2 separate regions of the Homo sapiens genome follow, and region 1 is linked to region 2. Evidence: fine-mapped expression QTL. Tissue or cell type: whole blood. Region 2 holds a variant in brackets; the other region holds the start of a gene. All regions are shown on one strand. Distances are from middle to middle.

Evidence for each region. PIP is the estimated chance that this variant, and not a neighbour inherited with it, causes the effect.
Region 1: QSOX1 starts here. The variant in region 2 is fine-mapped to the expression of QSOX1 in whole blood (TOPMed, PIP above 0.99).

The regions. Positions count from the first base shown.
Region 1 is chr1:180,150,851-180,159,972 of GRCh38, forward strand. QSOX1 (quiescin sulfhydryl oxidase 1) reads left to right here and starts at 4,019. Exons shown (of 12, transcript NM_002826.5): 1 at 4,019-4,322. The coding sequence starts at 4,058. It overlaps LOC105371636 (a long non-coding RNA gene), which reads right to left and starts at 3,988. Exons shown (of 2, transcript XR_001738314.3): 1 at 3,149-3,988; 2 at 1,758-2,339. RefSeq lists a silencer at 3,694-4,013 and an enhancer at 4,194-4,293.
Region 2 is chr1:180,127,261-180,136,382 of GRCh38, forward strand. No RefSeq gene overlaps it. Among named protein-coding and RNA genes, the nearest start is that of QSOX1, 23 kb to the right of the region's middle. The variant C/A (reference allele first, on the strand shown) is at 4,295.

The DNA of each region.
Region 1 (9,122 bases), 24 kb after region 2:
GACTCACAGAAGGATGTTCAGGGATTTCTGTGTTTTCCATTCTTATTTCTAAGGCCTTGAAGGGCCCAAATTTGGGGACCCTGTACTAGGTACATTATTCTCCATTCTCCACCCTCCACTGTCCTGCCTTTTGTCTTGGAAGCCAACTTCTACAGACTATATAATCAGGGCATGTTCACCCTCTGGCTTTGACTGGGTTTGGCCAGTGGGAGACAATGGCAAGAAGGATTGGAGGATTGGAGGAGAAAAAAGTGGAAGTCATACTCTCCCAGTGCCTCCCTGTGTTTCTGGCAGTGGTGGCATCATGTGATTGCAACACCAGTTGGGCAGCCCCTCTCCCTCACTTCCTGCTGTCACTGGTTTTCATCACAAAATTCCCTCCCTTTCTCTGCTCTGGTCCAGGAGTGCTAGAAAGGCTTTTTGCTTTTGCCAGTCCCTAATTAGTTCCCTCTGCCCTGCACACAACCTTGTGAATAGTTCTTCCAGTAAACCATTTTCAGTAGACCCTTGGAACGTGCTTTCTCTTTCCTTTCATATCTAACTGATACACACTCTTGCTATTTTTCTTCCAACTTTCAGAATTAGGGTTCTAACTGTCCCAGCTGTGGAAAGGTTCATCTGGAAGACCTAGAGTTTTGAGGGACAAAGCAAGGGTCTCTTTTCTGTTGCTGGGCACCTGCCTCCAGTTGCATACACCTTCTCTGATCCTTGGTGCGAATGAGTAAGGGGAAAGTCATCTAATGCTACTGGGTGACATATTTTACCAAACACTCTTCTATTGCTCACTATAATTATGTGAATTGTGTATAAGCTGCGTTCCTCTCATAATTTATTTCATTTTTGGGTGGCAGACTTCCAAATTCCCTCTCTTTTATTCATGCATAACACATGAATGATTCACAAGTGGTAAAGTCAACAGGGCCCCTTCCGCTTCAGTCCCCATCTGTAAAAATGGTTTATCAACCTCATGTTGAGGTTCAGAGTTGGTATAATATCAACCCTCATATTAAGGGTTGGTGTGAGGACTAAATGAGTACCATCTGTAAATCCTTAGAGCAGCAGGTGCAAAGTGCTAGCCCACACCATGAGTATTTGCTCATCTGATTCATCTCGGCCCCCTTTCCTACAATTTATATGTAGGAAGGGGGAAAAGGGGACTTCGGTAGGAATTTCTAAGTGCTCCCTCCAGCTTCCGGGGTTTTCCGCAGCACCCCTTCCTCTCTCAACACCCATTTCTGAGTAGATTTCCTTTTCCGCAACCTTTTCATCCCAGGAAGTTCCAGGAAGGGCAAGAAGGGCAATTGCGATTCTCACGTTTTCTGCTCTTAATTCTAAACCAGTGATTGTCAAATAGAGGCCTAGGGAGCCCCACTGACCACAGAAAGTGGGTTTTGCTCTAGGTTATATCTTTGTTATTGCTCTTATCTGTTTAAGTTTCAAGATTCTGTTTGAACAATGGTTTCCAAGTCTTTAAAAAGTCGAAAATCCCCCTTCTGATGAGATACAGAAACCCCAGACTTTAAAACTCTCAGTCTTAAACCTCTTTGGCACCATTGCCAAGAAACTTTTCTCTATTCCATTCAAATAGTTTGTATTCTTTGCCATTTCTGATGCTCTGAAACAGATATTCAAACAAGCAAGTCTTTATGTATTTATCTGGAGTGTCTTTCTCAAGCACTCAGCATGTTCAGTAGACATTTGTCTCCTTAATTTCTAGGCCCATGGGAAAGATAACTACAACACTGTTTAACAACAGAGACATTTGAAGGTACAAAACTTTACTGGAACCTGATCCAGCCGCTGCAGTACTTCCAACCCATAGAATCCAGCGTTACTAGAGGACCGTCCATTCTGGTTCCAGAGGCTGCTAGGAGCGAGAAAAGTTGGAGAGCAGAAGCTGTACAGGGACTGAGTCCCGGGGAGGAGTACCCAGCAACTGGAATTGGCTGCGTCATGGGGAGGAGAGTTAGCAAGGTACTAACACTCCAATTGGCTAACACATAATTTCTCTATGCAGCTTAAGACTTCAGGCAGACAGATATGAACACATGAAGGGAGTAAAAACTCCAACCTCTGGACCACTTCCTGGAGTGCTCCTAACCCAGACTCCCACAGGGCTTCCTCCCATACTTCATTTAGGTCTTTGGCTCAAATGTTACCTCTTTAGAACTGCCTCAAGACTGGGGCAAGAGGAGCCCCAGTCTAGGGCTCTGAGCACCTGATTCTCTTCCGTCCATGTTCCTTTCCATAGGGCAAGAAATCCCACGGGCCAACGGGATGTACTCACTCAGAGCTCTTGCCCCTCTCCTTTTTAGAGCATACTGTGAGTTCCTGGGACCCTAGAAAATAGTGCCGCAATAGCAACAGGTCACCAGCTACAGGCTGCCTCAGCCTTTTCCCAAGGTCTATCCTCCTGAGGAGCAAGGGGTGGTCAAGGGGAGGCTATTTGCAGGTGTGGACAAAACTCTGATGTGCAGATGTCGTTGTTATAGGTGTGGGCAAAAGGCCATTTGAAGTATGGGACAGAGCTGGGGTGCCAAGAGAAGAAGGAAGGCTGAGGGCCAAGGACATGTTCCCCCTCCAAAGCACTACATTCGAGGGCGTATCTCAGAAGGGTCCAAGAATCCTAAACTTAAATGTGGCCTTCCAGATTATGATGAAGGTATACATGTCAAGATAAAAGGATAGGAATTTTACATCACCGTTTAATTTGTAGTTTTAAAATATGTAGACATGATATGTGGGCCTCCATTTGTACTACTGACTCAGTTCTTGCAAATATTAAGGGTAGACCTGTCCCTGATCTTCGTGTGTAAAATAGCACCTCCTCTGCCACTCTATTCTTACCCCAGTCTACATTTCTTCATAACATCGGTCACCATCTGATCTACATTTACTTATGTATCATCTCTTTACCCCCACTGGAATGTAAGTTCCACGTCCCTAGAGTCTATATTTTGTTTACTGCCTTATCCTTATACCTAAACAAGTGCCTGGCATGACACCACTCAGTAAAACTTGAATAAATGAATAACAAATCTAGGCTCAAAGCTCTTACAGGTGAAAGGGGCTAACCTGGCAGTCACAAAGGAAAAATATCACTGTGACAACCGTCTGAGGAGCACCTTCTCCCCTTAAAATAACTCACTCAAAACAGTGGAGCTGCAAAGGTGACCAGAGAAAATCCATTAACACCTTAGTGCCCATGACACCAGGTGAGTTGATCGGGCTACTTGCGAGAGGGACATGTGAGTGAGCGTGGAGAGCTCTGAGTAGGCTGAAGAGCTGGATGTGGGGGATCTGGGCTGCTGGGAACCCCGAATGTTGGAATCGCCCTGACAACCTTATGAGGGTGGTCAGATATGGGTCCTGAGGAAACTGATTCCACGGCAACTGCCCGCCAACCCAGCACACCCCACAGTGAAGAGGGGCTTCTGATCCATGAGTAGGGCCCCTCAAATGATGTTCCCCTTTAGATGGTCATGGTCATCAGCAGGGGTGGGTGCATCGATCCTGTGGGGTCTTGGTGGTCGCAGACCAAGCGTCCCTCTTCTCACATCTAATTCACAACGTCTCATCGCTCCGCGGGAGCCCAGGAACTGCCCTACAACAGCCGAAATCCGGGTCGTCTATTCCAACGGACTCCTCTTCCGTTGGATACGGGGGCCGTGAGAGGCCAAACAACCTCCGCGAGGCTACCCCCGCAGCGACCGCTCGGCGGGCGCTCCATTCCTTTACCGGACTGTACACCTCGCCTCCTGGGGCCTGAGGCGGGAACCCGGGTCGCGCTGCTCCGAGGCCTCGGCGGACCGCGAAAGGATGGCTCACCACCCGGCCAGGGCCAGCCCCTGCAACAAGCTCAGCCCCGCCCGCTCCCGCGCCCAGGAGCGGCCGGCGGGGCGGGGTGGCTGGGCCGGCCTCGGGGGCGGGGGCTCGGGGGCGGGGGCTCAGGGGCGGGGCCACGTGGCTCCTCCTTGCGGGCGGAGGCAGGCGGTGCCGCGGCGCCGGGACCCGACTCATCCGGTGCTTGCGTGTGGTGGTGAGCGCAGCGCCGAGGATGAGGAGGTGCAACAGCGGCTCCGGGCCGCCGCCGTCGCTGCTGCTGCTGCTGCTGTGGCTGCTCGCGGTTCCCGGCGCTAACGCGGCCCCGCGGTCGGCGCTCTATTCGCCTTCCGACCCGCTGACGCTGCTGCAGGCGGACACGGTGCGCGGCGCGGTGCTGGGCTCCCGCAGCGCCTGGGCCGTGGAGTTCTTCGCCTCCTGGTGCGGCCACTGCATCGCCTTCGCCCCGACGTGGAAGGCGCTGGCCGAAGACGTCAAAGGTGAGAAGCGGGGGCGGCCCGCTCCCCCGTGCCCCGCCGCCCGGACCCCTCCACCTGCCCGGTGGGCAGCCTCCTACTCCGGGAGCGCGTCCCTCTTCCAGTCACCTCCGCCCACCTCTTCCTCTCCGCGCATCCCACGCCCACCACCTTCATGTTTCTCAGCTCCATTTTTGCCTCCCGCTCCCTTGCCTTTTCCTCTTGGCCCTCATCCCGAGCTTCTTTCCCTCTCCGCGGCCTGGGCCCCCAGACCTGCCCTGCTCGCCCGGTTCGTCCCCCGCCAGGTTACTGCCTCCTTCCCTGCGAGAGGTCTCCTTTGTTCCTTCCTCCGCATGGTCCGCTGACACCTTACCGTTTCCTGGGCCAGCCTTGTGGCAGTCCTCTTCCTCTCGTCCAGGGACCCATGTCATCTTCCTGCCAGGTTCCCTAGCTGCTGTGGGTCAGTGCTGGGGAGAAAAGGGAACGGACATCCATTTTGCCTCCCTGCCACCTTTCTCCACTCCCTCGACTGGTTGACCAGGTGGTACATAGACTTCCTTTCTCATTTTTGTCTTTGATGTGGGTATGTCCACCTGGCAGTTTTCCTATCTCTGTTCCGGGCCTCTCCTGACCTGCCGCCTCCAGCTCCTTAGCTTCTGGGCCACATCCTTCTCTCTCTTCCCCCGCTCAGACCCTTATATTTTAAACCCATGCACCCAGAGGCCTTTGGTGCGTGTTTGGCTCTTGCTCCATGTTCCCAATCCCTGGTTGGGGCACCAAAACTATATTTCCTGAATTCCAAGACACCATCAACTGTGAGACACACTGTTCATTTTATGACAGCCCAAGGGGTAGAAGGATAGGAAAAAACCACTACATGTATAAAGATTTGAAGGTGAACTCTATTACAGAAATGCTAAAATTTTGAAACACTTAAGACTTAGAGTCGAGGAAATATGGTAATAATAGTAATTAATATTTACGGAGCACCTATCATTTCAGGCACCTTACTAAGTACTCGGCATACATTGTCTCATAGTTTCCTTTCCACAATTTAAAGATTCCTGTGGTGTCACACATCCACCTAATCCAGGTAGTGGGTATTTGGCGGGCAGGAGTGGTATAGTGATAGTGATTTGTTCCTGACTTGCTGCCTCTGAATGGAGTTACTTCCTGACTCTGGTGCTAGGTCGCTAGCACGGCCTCCTACCCTGAAATGGTCATTGAATGAGAACTGTGGGCATCTTTGGAAATAGGCCTTTTTCTAGAGAAAGGGGAACTGGAACCATTGTTCCACTGTTGGTATTTCTTGATAAATTCAACTCTTTGTGGTAGAACAGTGCCTTTGTAGATGTTAGTTTTCAGACTCACCCTCCTCTTTTCCTGAGCAGCTTGCAGATTGGTTTCTGAAGAGGCGAGATGGAACCATGTGTACATCTTTTAGCCATATGGTCCTGGAAAATTATTTTTAAATGAAACTTATAAGCTGTTTTGACCTCCAGTTTACACTTGCCTACATGCCTCACTGGTCCCATTAGCTGAACGTGCCTTTCTGAGCAGTGCTTCACACCATTTCAACACATTTGGTCAGGGGAGGAGTGATGTCAACACATCTGGTCAGGGGAGGAGGGAGGAAGAACATGGATCATGGAACTGGAACACCTAAGATAAGGTAATCTCAGGGGACATTGTGGGCATGAACATCATAAAAATTCCCAGATCGCTTTCCACTTTGAGGTTATAAGAGGTGTTCAGTGGCTGCAGATGGACTTATTCTAGAATTTCTTCCTTCTTGAGAGTGCTGGGGGGAAAGATTAGCTTCCAGCTGACTCACATGTTTGGCCTCTTGCAATGCAGAGTTTTTAGTTTTCCTATGAGTTGCATGTCTAGATACTGACCCATTCTGCTCCTGGATGAGGGTTACCACTTCCAAACAGGATTCCCCAGTGCATGGAGCCTTTCTCTAAAATAAGAAAGCGAAATCAGAATTTAACCTCTGAAAAGGAAATGGAAGGATCAAAGTCTGTGGGGGTGAGCCAGGGTAAATGGGAGGTGGGAGATTTCAGTGGAAACTGGAGGTCTCCTGTGAGCCATTGGTGTGAGTCAGTCCTTGAGCCAGATCGTGTTGGGAGGGCACTGGCAGAATCTGCTGTCAGCCTGCAATGAAGAATGTCCTCCACTCTAACCCAAAGGGGTGTTCCCTGGTGAGGCCCTGCTGAGAAGCTAGGGTTGGTCTCGCTTCATCTCTGTGTCCTGAGGTTTCTTGAGAAAGGTTGGTTGTGGGCCCGCAGAGGGCTGTGCTCATCCCACCCTGGGCTGTGTGAGTACTGCCCATGCTCTCTGCTGAGGACACCTGTATCTTGAGGCAGGAACAGAGACAGAGTGAAGGTCACAGGGAGAGAGAAGAATTTTGCAGCCATATTTGGCTGGCTTCAGGCATTTAATCTGACTGAATAGGGTTCATTTCTTCAGTGACTAGGGCAGTAGATTCTCTAGGCACCTGCTGCCCCGGGGCAGAGCATGTGTTTCTGAGAACCTGGTTTATCCCCTTTCTATTCCAGAGCAGCTCCGGTTGTCTCACTGTATGTTTTGGAAACTGGTTGTATCCAATTTAGACCTTCATTGCTATTCACTGGCTAATCAATCAGCAAATATTTGTTGAGTGATAAGCATTGTTTGCATTGCAGTTGGGGAAATGAGCTACTCATAGAAGGAAAATTGGCAACTGTTACAAAGCTGTGTTTGAAAAAGGCCAAAGGAGTGGTTCAGCCATTTCTTATGGGAACCCAGGGGAGGGGAAAGTCACAGAGGGCTAATCTGATCACCAGAGGCCTTCATGCCAGTAGTTATTTATTACACGCTTGCCTTATGCCAGCACTTTGCTAAGGGCCTTCACAGGCCATTATTATGACAATCCTTACCCGGGAAAATATCTGTACTATGGATATTGTCTTCCTCTTTTTTTAAAACAGGTAAGTAACTTTCCAGGTTTACACAGATGCTGGAGAAGGTCATTGACTCCAGCTCTTTTTGGCTTTCTGGAGCCTGGGCAGGTAGAGAGGTGGGTGGAGGAGGAAGGATACTCCAGGTGGAAAAACAGCATGTGCCGAGCTATGGAGGTGAGGTTCGTAAGGCGTGTGTTTGAGTGACAGTGAGCAGTGTTGGTTTTGCCCCCCTTCTCTTCCACGGCACAGGCCACATCTGCTATGTGTACCTGTGATTCCCAGCACAGAGCCTGGTGCAGAGTAGGAGCCCACTGCACGTTCATGGTGGCCAGTGGCCTGAGCCTCACAGGATTCCAAATGACAGCGTGAGTGTAGAACCTTCTGCTGGTGCCGTGGATCCTCTTGACTCAGACCGGGGGTGTCAGCCAGGTGTGAGGGGTAGAGAAGGCATTTTGTCCATCCAGTGACGTCACTGCCCAGAAACTGTCAGCAAGGAGGAAGGAAGGCATGAGTTGGTGACCGCATAGTGCTGACTAGCTGGACAGGGCATAAACTAACTCTCTGTGTCAGGAGAGCTCCTGAATTCTTCGGTGTAGAGTCCAGAGCTGAGGGTCAGTAGATTCTAGTCACTAGACCACCAGGTCTGACTGGCTCTTGGTGGTTTGGGTAAATCTGTGCCTCTGTCTTCATGGAAGTCCAGACCCACTTAACACTCGGAGGCTGCATGTTTCTTGTTAAGAGTTGTTTGCCATCCAGCACCTCAACGGTTGTCAGAGCTAGAAGGGGCATTAGAGATCATTCATCCTGGCCCTCGCTGATCCAGGAGGAAGCAGAGGTCCAGAGAGACATGTGGAGCTCACGGTGCTGCAGCCAGTTAAACTCCAAGCAAGGCTTCCTGCTCCACCCAGTGCCCTCCCTGCACTTGTGAGTGGGGCAGGGGACGCTGCCCTTGACTCCAGACCAAGCCCCCAGTGGGGGCTCAGCAGAATCCCCACAACACCCCCTACCAGAGGGCATCCCCTCACCCATCAATCCAAGATTTACAGCTGTCCAACTTCTCTTGCCTCGCCACCCTTCCCCTCTCCATTAGTCCATTTATTCTGTGGTTGGTAGAAAAATTACGCTGTTCAGAGCAATAATTGCACCAGGAAAGGGTTTTCTCCCCAGTAGTAGAGCTAGACTGATACTACTGATCATTTTGGTGTTAGGCATTTAAGACACCTGACACTTCAAAAAGCCTCTGTCACCCAGCTCTGCATTGCGTTGACAGTAAAGCTTAAATGCAGCTTTGCTTTAACAATGGAGCACTCACATAAGGACCTTCTCTATTCCATCTCCTGTTACTTGTCAAAAGACAAAATTACACCACATTCAAAAATCTTAACTGGCTTCTATTTGTGATTCTGGAATCGGACAACACCACATTCTGTCTTACAGAATGAGTATTCTGATGAGCTGAGCAGAGGAGTTTGGCTTTATAGACAGAAAAAGGCTGAAGAAAGTAGAAACAGATCAAAAATCTGATTGGTTATTTCGGTCCCTTTTAAAGGTTAAAGCAGAGGAGACTTCTGTATGTTGGCTGAAACTGGCTTGTTTGAAGATTTGACTGTTAACTCACTCTCTCCTGATCTTGGAAGGTCAGATCGACAGCTTAGTTTTGGCTTGGTGGCGTGGAACTTCAGCTTGAGGGACTCCATCTTGGTTTGGTCTCTTGGGCCTTGTGCAGGAGCTCAGTCCCAACCAATGGCCTCCTAGAAATATTATTTAACAGTTCTCCCCTTTTGGTCAGGTTCTCACCTAGGTGAGAGTTACTAAAACAGGGCATCAGCACTACTCTCAGTAATCATCGTTTTGGGTTTTCGGTCTTAACACATCATTT
Region 2 (9,122 bases):
CTTCCTTAGCCCCACCCACTGTAATACTTTGCTCAAGGTAGGTTTCATAGTGAGTTGAAAGGCAGCCTTCATTTCTCAATATGACAAATTAAACTCTTGTCAAGGGATGCTTTATATTTAGCTATTAAAAAGAACTGAAAACAGGTCGGGCATGGTGGCTCACGCCTGTAATCCCAGCACTTTGGGAGGCCAAGGCGAGTGGATCACGAGGTTAGGAGATCGAGACCATCCTGGCTAACACGGTGAAACCCCATCTCTACTAAAAATACAAAAATATTAGCCAGGCATGGTGGCGGACGCCTGTAGTCCCAGCTACTCGGGAGGCTGAGGCAGGAGAATGGCGTGAACTCGGGAGGCGGAGCTTGCAGTGAGCCGAGATCACACCACTGCACTCCAGCCTGGGCAACAGAGCAAGACTCCACCTCAAAAAAAAAAAAAAAAAAAAAAGAATTGAAAACAATTTGCATGTCTGTGAATGTGTGTTTGTGTCTGAGTGTGTGGTGCAATCATTATTAGCAAAGGGGAAGATGGCAGGTGGCACATGTCACAGGCAGAAGAATTTTGCAGGGAAGTACATAGAGAATCCTCAAGGTGGTGACGTGCCTGCCACGTTCCAGGACTGCATGGCTCCCAGCAGCTCATAAGAATCCCACTTTGAGCACTGCAGGGAAAACGGGTCACCTCATCCCTTCCAGCTCAGCTGTGCCCAGGGCCTAGGACTTCCCACTGGGGACTCTGTGGCTGTTTATTTTAGTCCCTGCTCCTGCCAGCTCTGTGCTTGGCGTCCACCTGAGGCAGCTTCCTGGAGAAACGGCTGAGCCACAGGGCATTGTCCCCAGACCGCAGAGCAAATGGTGGAGTGCCATGACGATGACAAACATTTACTGAATGTGTAGACATTCCCACTTAATCCTTGAAAACAGAACACAAAATAGGCTAAGAGCTTACATAATTTGCCTGATGTCACAGTTAATAAGTGGTGGAACTGGCATTCAAACCCAAAACATACGCTTCGAACCACTCTACGGATCACTGGTGACCAGCTCAGGATGCCAGCAAGAGCAGGCCTCCCATGAGAGAGCGTCGTGCAGTTTGCTGGATACGGTGGGAATGACCCATATTTGAGCTCCCAGGGGAGAAGCAAATGGGGGACAGGACTGGACAGCCAAGGTGCAGGGCATCCTCTGGGAAGGCGCGTGGCTCGGAACACAAAGGCTTCCCGGGTGCAGCATGGGAGGGAGCCCGGGCCAGGCTTCTTGGGTCCACGCCTAGCTCTGCCACTCAGACCCACCCCAGGATCTGTGGGCCCAGAGGGGAGGATGGAAGGAGGCCACAGACCACATGTCTAAATATTTAAAATACTTTAAAGCTGTCAGTCAAGCCGACAGACATAAGGAGAATACACTCCACCCTCCTACGTTGACACATAAACTTCTCAATGACCTGGAAGGCCAGGTGTGAATGCAGAACTCTGGGGCTCCACACAGTTCTGTGTCTGGAGGAGGGAGTGTGGGGAGGCCCATGGCTCGCCCTCCTCTTCCCACGCCCTGCTCTGTCACACCTTCAAAGGGGCCACGTGTGGACAGTGAGACTGCTGGTTCAAATTCTGTCCACACTTTTCATAAAGAGCTGCCCTGCGGCCACCATTTGGGCCCACTGAGGTGGCAGCATGCACCCAAAGGAAGACAGGCCTGGGGAGAGGCCCTGGCAGCAGCCTCATGGCTGTGTGGGCTGGAATTCCACAGTGTGTGCTCCCAAGTGTAGTCCACAAGCAGGAAGTGAGCCTTCCCCTTGGCTCCGAGGGCTCCTTGCCTTGTGGGGAGGGCACCGCCAGACAGAGGCCAGAGCAGGCCATCTAAAGCGTGGGGCCCTGGCAGAGGCCCGTCAGGCCTGGCTCTCGGGAGGTTGCTGCCACCATTTCCTTATTGTGGAACTTTGGGCACATTAGTCTCTCTGTGCCTCGCCTTCCTCCTCTGTGAATGGAGATGATTACAGTGAGGAATAACCGAGGAACAGCGTGCCTATTCAGGATGAGTAAGGTGCTTATGGCGGTGCTCGGAAATAGTAAGTGTGATATAAATGCTCACAATTAAGTGTAATTAGTGTAATTATTATTTGGTTTTAGTCAGGGATCTTCAAAGTCGTTAACAGATTGAGTGCTGGAAAAAAAATAAAAAACTCATCCGTTCTCAGGCCAGAGCTTGTAAAGGAAGAGAAAGTGTGGGAAAGCAGGGAGCAGAAGGGAGTGGGATAGAGGGAACGTGGGGCATTCGCTGCGAATCCACCCAAAAAACATGCACTAGGGAGGCATGTTTCTAGGCCCCCGGTAACAGGAGTGAGAAAGACAGACGGCGATTCTTGCCTTCATGCACCTTCTTGGCACAGCAGTCAGGGTGGGAGGTGAGAAGGAAGATATTTAACAAGGAAACAAAGAAATAAGCATTATCATTCCAGATGGAGACAAGGGGAGTGAAGGAAATCAAACAGGGAAAATCAAGAGAGAATGACTCTGCAGGAAGGTGGGGTGCAGGCTGGGCCAGGCAGAAGGGAAGAACTACTCTCAGGAGGACTGCCAAGACCTCTCTCAGGAGACAACTGTAAAACTGAGACCTGAGCGGGGAAAACAAACAACGAATAACAAAAAACCTGAGACCTGAATAATGTGGAGGAATTGACTGTGTAAGAATCAGGGAGAGGGTGTTCAAGAAAACGGCTGATGAGGCCGGGCACGGTGGCTCACGCCTATAAACTCGGCACTTTGGGAGGCCGAGGCGGGCAGATCGCTTGAGGTCAGGAGTTCGAGACCAGTCTGGCCAACAAGGTGAAACCCCATCTCTACTAAAATACAAAAATTAGCCAGGCGTGGTGACACGCACCTGTAGTCCCAGCTATTTGGGAGGCTGAGGCAGGAGAATCGCTTGAGCCTGGGGAAGTGGAGGTTAGAGTGAGCCGAGATCGCACCACTGCACTCCAGCCTGGGCGACAGAGCGAGACTCTGTCTCAAAAAAAAAAGAAAAATAAACAGGGCTCTGGCATGACTCCTAGGTCTGGGGCCTGAGTAGCAAGCTGGTGTGATGTCTTTACTGAATGAGTCCAGACTAGGGGAGAAATAGAGTTTGTAAAGAAAACCCACAGTTTCAGTTAGGACATGTCAACTTCAAGATGGCAGTCATTTATTCCAATGGCAATATTGAGTCAGATACATGAATTTTGAACTCAAGAGTGAATTTAGGGCTAAAAATATAAATTTAGGAGCAGTGGTTCACAGATGTATTTATTTATTTATGTTATTATTATTATTATTTGAGACAAGAGTCTCGCTGTCACCCAGGCTGGAGTGCAGTGGCATCTTCTGGGCTCAAGCCATCCTCCCACCTCAGCCTCCTGAGGAGCTGGGACTACAGGCATGCACCACCACACCTGGCTAATTTTTTATATTTTTAGTGGAGACAGCTTTTTCCATGTTGCCCAGGCTGGTCTCAAACTCCTGAGCTCAAGCAATCCACTCACCTTAGCTTCCAAAGTGCTGGGATTACAGGCATGAGCCACCACGCCAGCCTGCAGATGGTATTTACAAGGGACAAAATCGGATGGGATTGCTTGCAGAGAACATGTAGGAGATAAGAAGGCTGAAGGCTGATGGCTGAGGGCCTCTCACATTCAGAGCTGTGGGATGATTAAGAGCCAGTAAAGGAGACTGAGAAGGAGTTGCTGGGGAAGTAGGAAGAGAACAAGCAGATGACATGGTAGGCTCAACAGTGGGCACCAGAATGTCCATACCCTAATCTGAGGAACATGTGAATATGTTACCTTAGGTGACAAAAGGGACCTTGCAGGTGCAACTGAGGTTAAGGAGTTTGGGATGGAGAAATTATCCTGGATTATCTCAGTGGGCCCAATCTAACCACCCGATTCTTTACAAATACACAAGGCAGCAGTGGGAGTCAGAGAGGTGTGATGATGAAAGGGGCTCAGAAGATGTAAAACACGAGGAAGAATTGACCCACCACTGCCGGCTCTCAAGATGGAGAAGCCAAAAATTCAGGTGACCTCTAGAAACTGGGAACGGCCCTCAGCTGACAGCCAGCCCAGACACAGGACCTCAGTCCTTCAGCCGCAAGGACTGAATTCTTCTAATAAACTGAATGATTAAGGAAATGGATTTGCCCCTAGAACCTCTGGCAAAGAATCTAACTCTGCCAACACTCTGATTTTAGCCCAGTGAGCCCCATGTTGGATTTCTGAACTACAGAACTATAAAATAATAAATTTGCATAGTTGTAAGCCACAAAAT[C/A]TGTGGTAATCTGTTATTGCAGCAAGCCAGTGAATGTATGTGGTTTAAACTAAAAGCTGAAGGAAGAACGTGTTTCAAGAAGGAGGGGGCCATCAGCTGTGTTGCAAGCTGCTGAGAGGTTGAGTCAGAGGAAGACAGACATAACCTTTGAATGGGGCAACGCAGAGACTGCCACTGACCTCGACCAGCAGTTTCAGTGGAATGGTGAGATCAGAACGCAGACGGGAGTGGGGCAGGCCATGAAGGTCAGGGTGATGATGCAGTGAAGACAGACAACTCTTGTCAAGTTTTGAAGAGGGGGGAGGAAATGGGGCAGTATCTGGAGAAGGGTGTATGTTCATACAAGAGTTCCACTTTGTTTTAGTGAGAGACAGAGAGCAGGTTGTTTGCTGAAGGAATTGACCTTGTGGGGGAGAAAAAGTGAGATTTGCGAGTGGGGTTGGGGGACCAGCAGCAAAGTGGGATCCAGAGTGCAAGTGGAGGGGCCGGTGTTGATGGGAGGAAGGGGCAGGAGGGAAGACAGAAGATGAGTCTGGGCGCGAGGTGGCTTCTAGCTTGATGGTGGGAGGAAAAGGAGTTCCAGTCTGATGGCTTCTATTTTGTCATCAAAGTGACCGAAGTGAGGTCTTGTGTGAATGTACAAGGGGGAAGAAAGCATGCTGGAGGCTTGAGGAGCGAGAAAAGGGTATAGAATGGCTCACCCTGGAGCCTGGGAAGCAACCTGATGATAGAAGCGGAGCCCGCTGCCCCAGGAAGGAACTGGCCTCTGCTGCCTCTTTCACCTTCCTGGCGCGGTCCTGGGGGTGGTCTGCTGGGTTCAGGTTGGGCTGTGGAGTATGTTCTTACTCACTAGGCAGGTAACCCAAGCAGCTTTTATAGCCTTGGTCTCTTCACCACCATCATCTTAGTCATGCTTGCCCTGCCTACTTCCATCAAAGGAGGCAGCAAGTGCTGCATGGACAGTCAGGCGCTGTCTGAGTGGGAGTCATGGTTTTTTCCTTATGGATGGAGTCCATCCTGTAATACCTGGCCAGTGAGGAGATCCCCAGCAAGCTAGAGATGAGCACAGAGGGAGAGCGTCTGTCTAGCTCGCAGCAATGGCCTCTGCCTTCTGAGATCGCTTCCTTCGTAAGCGTAAGCAGTAACTTCCACCTCCACCCGGTCCCCAAGAGGCCTGACAGACTCCCAGCCTGGGTTTACTTTCCTGGGGCAATAGTAATATGAATCCACATAGAGGCTTGGTCCCCATGGGGTGCTCCTCCAGCCATAGTGTCTGCAGCTGTCATCTGGCTAGATGAAGGAAGGGAAACCAGGGCCTGATGCTGTCCTGCCATTTGCTGAATGTCACCCTCCAGGGTAGCCCAAGAAGAAGCAGTAAGTCTTCCAATGTGAGTTTCCTGTAAAAGTTCTTTGGTGACGTAGGGCTTTTTGTGTAGGTGATTTGGGAAGGGGCAACTTTACAAAAATCAGATAAGCTGGGTGGGTGGCTCATGCCTCTAATCCCAGTACTTTGGACAGCCAAGGTGGGAGGATTACTTGAGCCCAGGAGTTCAAGACCAGCCTGGGCAACATAACAAGACCCCATCTCTACAAAAAAAAATTTTAAATTAGCCAGGGCTGGTAGCCTGTGGCTGTTGTCCCAGCTACTCAAGAGGCTGAGGTAGAAGGATCACTTGAGTCTAGGAGGTCAAGGCTGTAGTGAGCTGTAATTGTGCCACTATACTCCAGCCTGGGCAACAGAGCAAAACTCCATCTAGAAACAAAACAAAACAAAACAAAAATAGATCAATAAGCCTCATTGTGACCAAAGAGAGGTAGTGTTCTCCCAGTGAAAAGCAGGAGTCAGGGAGCTCAAGGACTTTGTCCAGGATCAAACACAGGTCAGCTGAGGACCTAGGAATCCAATTAGTTTGACTTGACTCCAAGCTCATGTTTTATTCTACCATACGAAACTGCTTCCCTGGATCCAACCAGCCTGCCTGCTTCCCAGCAAAGGGAAGAGGAGGGAAGGAGCCAGCATTTACCAAGCACTTGTTTACCAGGGGTCCTGCTCTTTGCAGTTCACAGTCGGGGGAAGGAGCACCCCTAGATGGCCAAGAGGCTGTTTCATGATTAACCCCTGCCAATCGGAGGTCTATGGGAAACAGGTATGCTCTGGCTGAAAGCCATGCTGAGTTCAACATGTCATCCTGGTCACCAAAGATAAAAGGATCAGGAAAATAACAGCACAAGTAGATACTACATTCTCCTCTCCAAATACCTTCTCTCCTCCTCCTCTCAGTCCCCAAATGCCATTTTTCCCCGAAATGGAAAGTAGGAGATAAAACTATCAGGGAGATGAGGTCGGCGCGGTGACTTACGCCTGTAATCCCAGCACTTTGGGAGCCCAAGGTGGGCGGATCACGAGGTCAGGAGTTTGAGACCAGCCTGGCCAACATGGTGAAAATCTGTCTCTACTAAAAATACAAAAAATAGCTGGGCGTGGTGGTGCACGCCTGTAATCCCAGCTACTCAAGAGGCTGAGGCAGAGAATTGCTTGAATCCAGGAGGCAGAGGTTGCAGTGAGCTGAGATTGTGCCACTGCACTCCAGCCTGGGCGACAGAGCAAGACTCTGTCTCAAAAAAAAAAAAAACTATTAGGGAGATGAAAGTGAAATGGAACTCCTTCTGATCTCACAGAAACATTCAAACAGTGGAGGAGAAAGGCATAGGAAAGAAACTGGATAAGGTATATAAAGAGAAACAAGCACATAGCCCCTCCAAGGGATTTTGCCAAACGCTTCACTTCTGCTCTTTATCCACTTGTGATATTTGTAGATGACATAAGCTGGTTATGTGGCAGCTCTATGGACTTACTGTTGCATTGTTCAAGGCCAAGTTTCCCAAAAGGAGCTGGGGAATAACATAATGTTGAGTCCAGAACGTTCCTTTGGCAGAGTTTTATGTTAGAATCTTAATACAGAAATGAGAAGAGAAGGAATACACTGATAATATTTATTTTATATTTACAGTGGGATCCTGGTAAAAGGTGTTGGCACCCTTTCAAAAAATTGTTGGTACCTTTGTACAGAGCTGTGGTCATATCAATTGGCACAATACTTTTGGAAATTACAATTGTTCCGTGAAAGGGCCATTTACGCAGAGTGATGCCCAAGTGTCAAAGAAGTCCAGAAACCAAAGCAGGAGGCTGTCAAATCCAGTTTGTTGATTTTAGGTCACTTACTAGGGCAACTTAAAGACAGAAGCATGCTCTTGGGCAGCCACGAGATACGTAGGTCTCTGTACTGCAACCCCCGAAACCCAGGGCCTCTATCTCGGGGAAAAAGTGTATGTGCTCTGAAAGTGTATGTGGAATATAATGTATCTGGAAGTATACGTGCTCTGGGAAGTGTAGGTGGCTACCAGCATCACAGCCTATTTCTGCAACAGCATCAAGGGTTGCTTTGGAGGAAAAGCAAAACTTGAAATGAAGAGGTATTCCCACAGAAAGAGTAATACATCAACTAGACATTTTGTTCCTGGACTTGAAGTTAGTCAGGTAGATTAGCATTTAAAATAAAGTCACTCTTGGCTGGGCACAGTGACTAATGCCTGTAAATCTCAGCACTTTGGGAGGCCGAGGTGGAAGGATCACTTGAGCCAAGGAGTTTGAGACCACCCTGGACAACATAGCAAGACTTCATCTCTATTAAAAAAAAAAAGTAGCTGGGTATGGTGGCACACATCTTCAGTCCCAGGTATTCAGGAGGCTGAGGCAGGAGGATCGTTTGAGCCAGGAGGTCGAGGTTGCAGTGAACTAAGATCATGCCACTGCACTCCAGCATGGTGGACAGAACAAAACCCTGTCTCAAAAGAAAAAAAGCCACTCTTGTCCACAACAATTTGTACCATGAACCACAAAATTTTTCATATATATTTTGACCTAATGAACTTTTTGAGGAAAAAGAGATAAACACCAAAGATATGCATAAACGTTTATGACTATAAAACATTAAAAATAACCATAATATTCAATGTTGTAGAAATAATGGAGTAAACTGTTACCCACTCATTTGGCAGAATATTTTACAACCACTGTAATTAGTGGTGTGCTGGACTCAGCCCATACTGGCTTGAGAGAGCCAATTGTGTGCATTCTTCCCAACTCTGCATTCCATGATGTCATGTCAGTAGCATGAAATCAGCCATGGTGGGAGTATTTACACGAGAGAAATTGGCAAACACTACCAATTAGGGCTTACCCCATCCCCAGAGAGCAAGTTGTTAAAACATTTTCCAGCACACCATTGGTAAGTGGTATATATAAAAAAGATACAAAATTATAAGTGTACCATTGTCATAACAATGTTAAAAATGAATATAAAGATAAGACATGGAAGGGACTATAGATGAGCTGAAAAAAGATTGTGGATAACTTATTTTTTTATTTCAAGCTCTGTTTATTGCTATAGTCTTATTTATATAAAAACACATTTTTTAAATGTTTAAATCTGGTCTTCTGTTTTCACTATGACCAAATAATTTCCTATGAATTCATCCTCTCACATATACAAAATATAATCTCTGGAAAACACACACACACACACACACACACACACACACACACACACACAAACTGCATACAGACACTGGAGAGTGAAAAAGGCAGGCAGATTCTGAAGCAGAGTCAACATTTGGAAGAGGGAAACAATATAAAATAAAGTGTCCCATTTTTATGACAGTTAATTTGAAGGCAGGCTGCAGTTGGTACTGTGTGTAGAGCAGCTAAAACTTTGGTGGGAAATTAGCAATATTTTCTGGCCTGAAGACCAGGAGACACAGTTTAGGG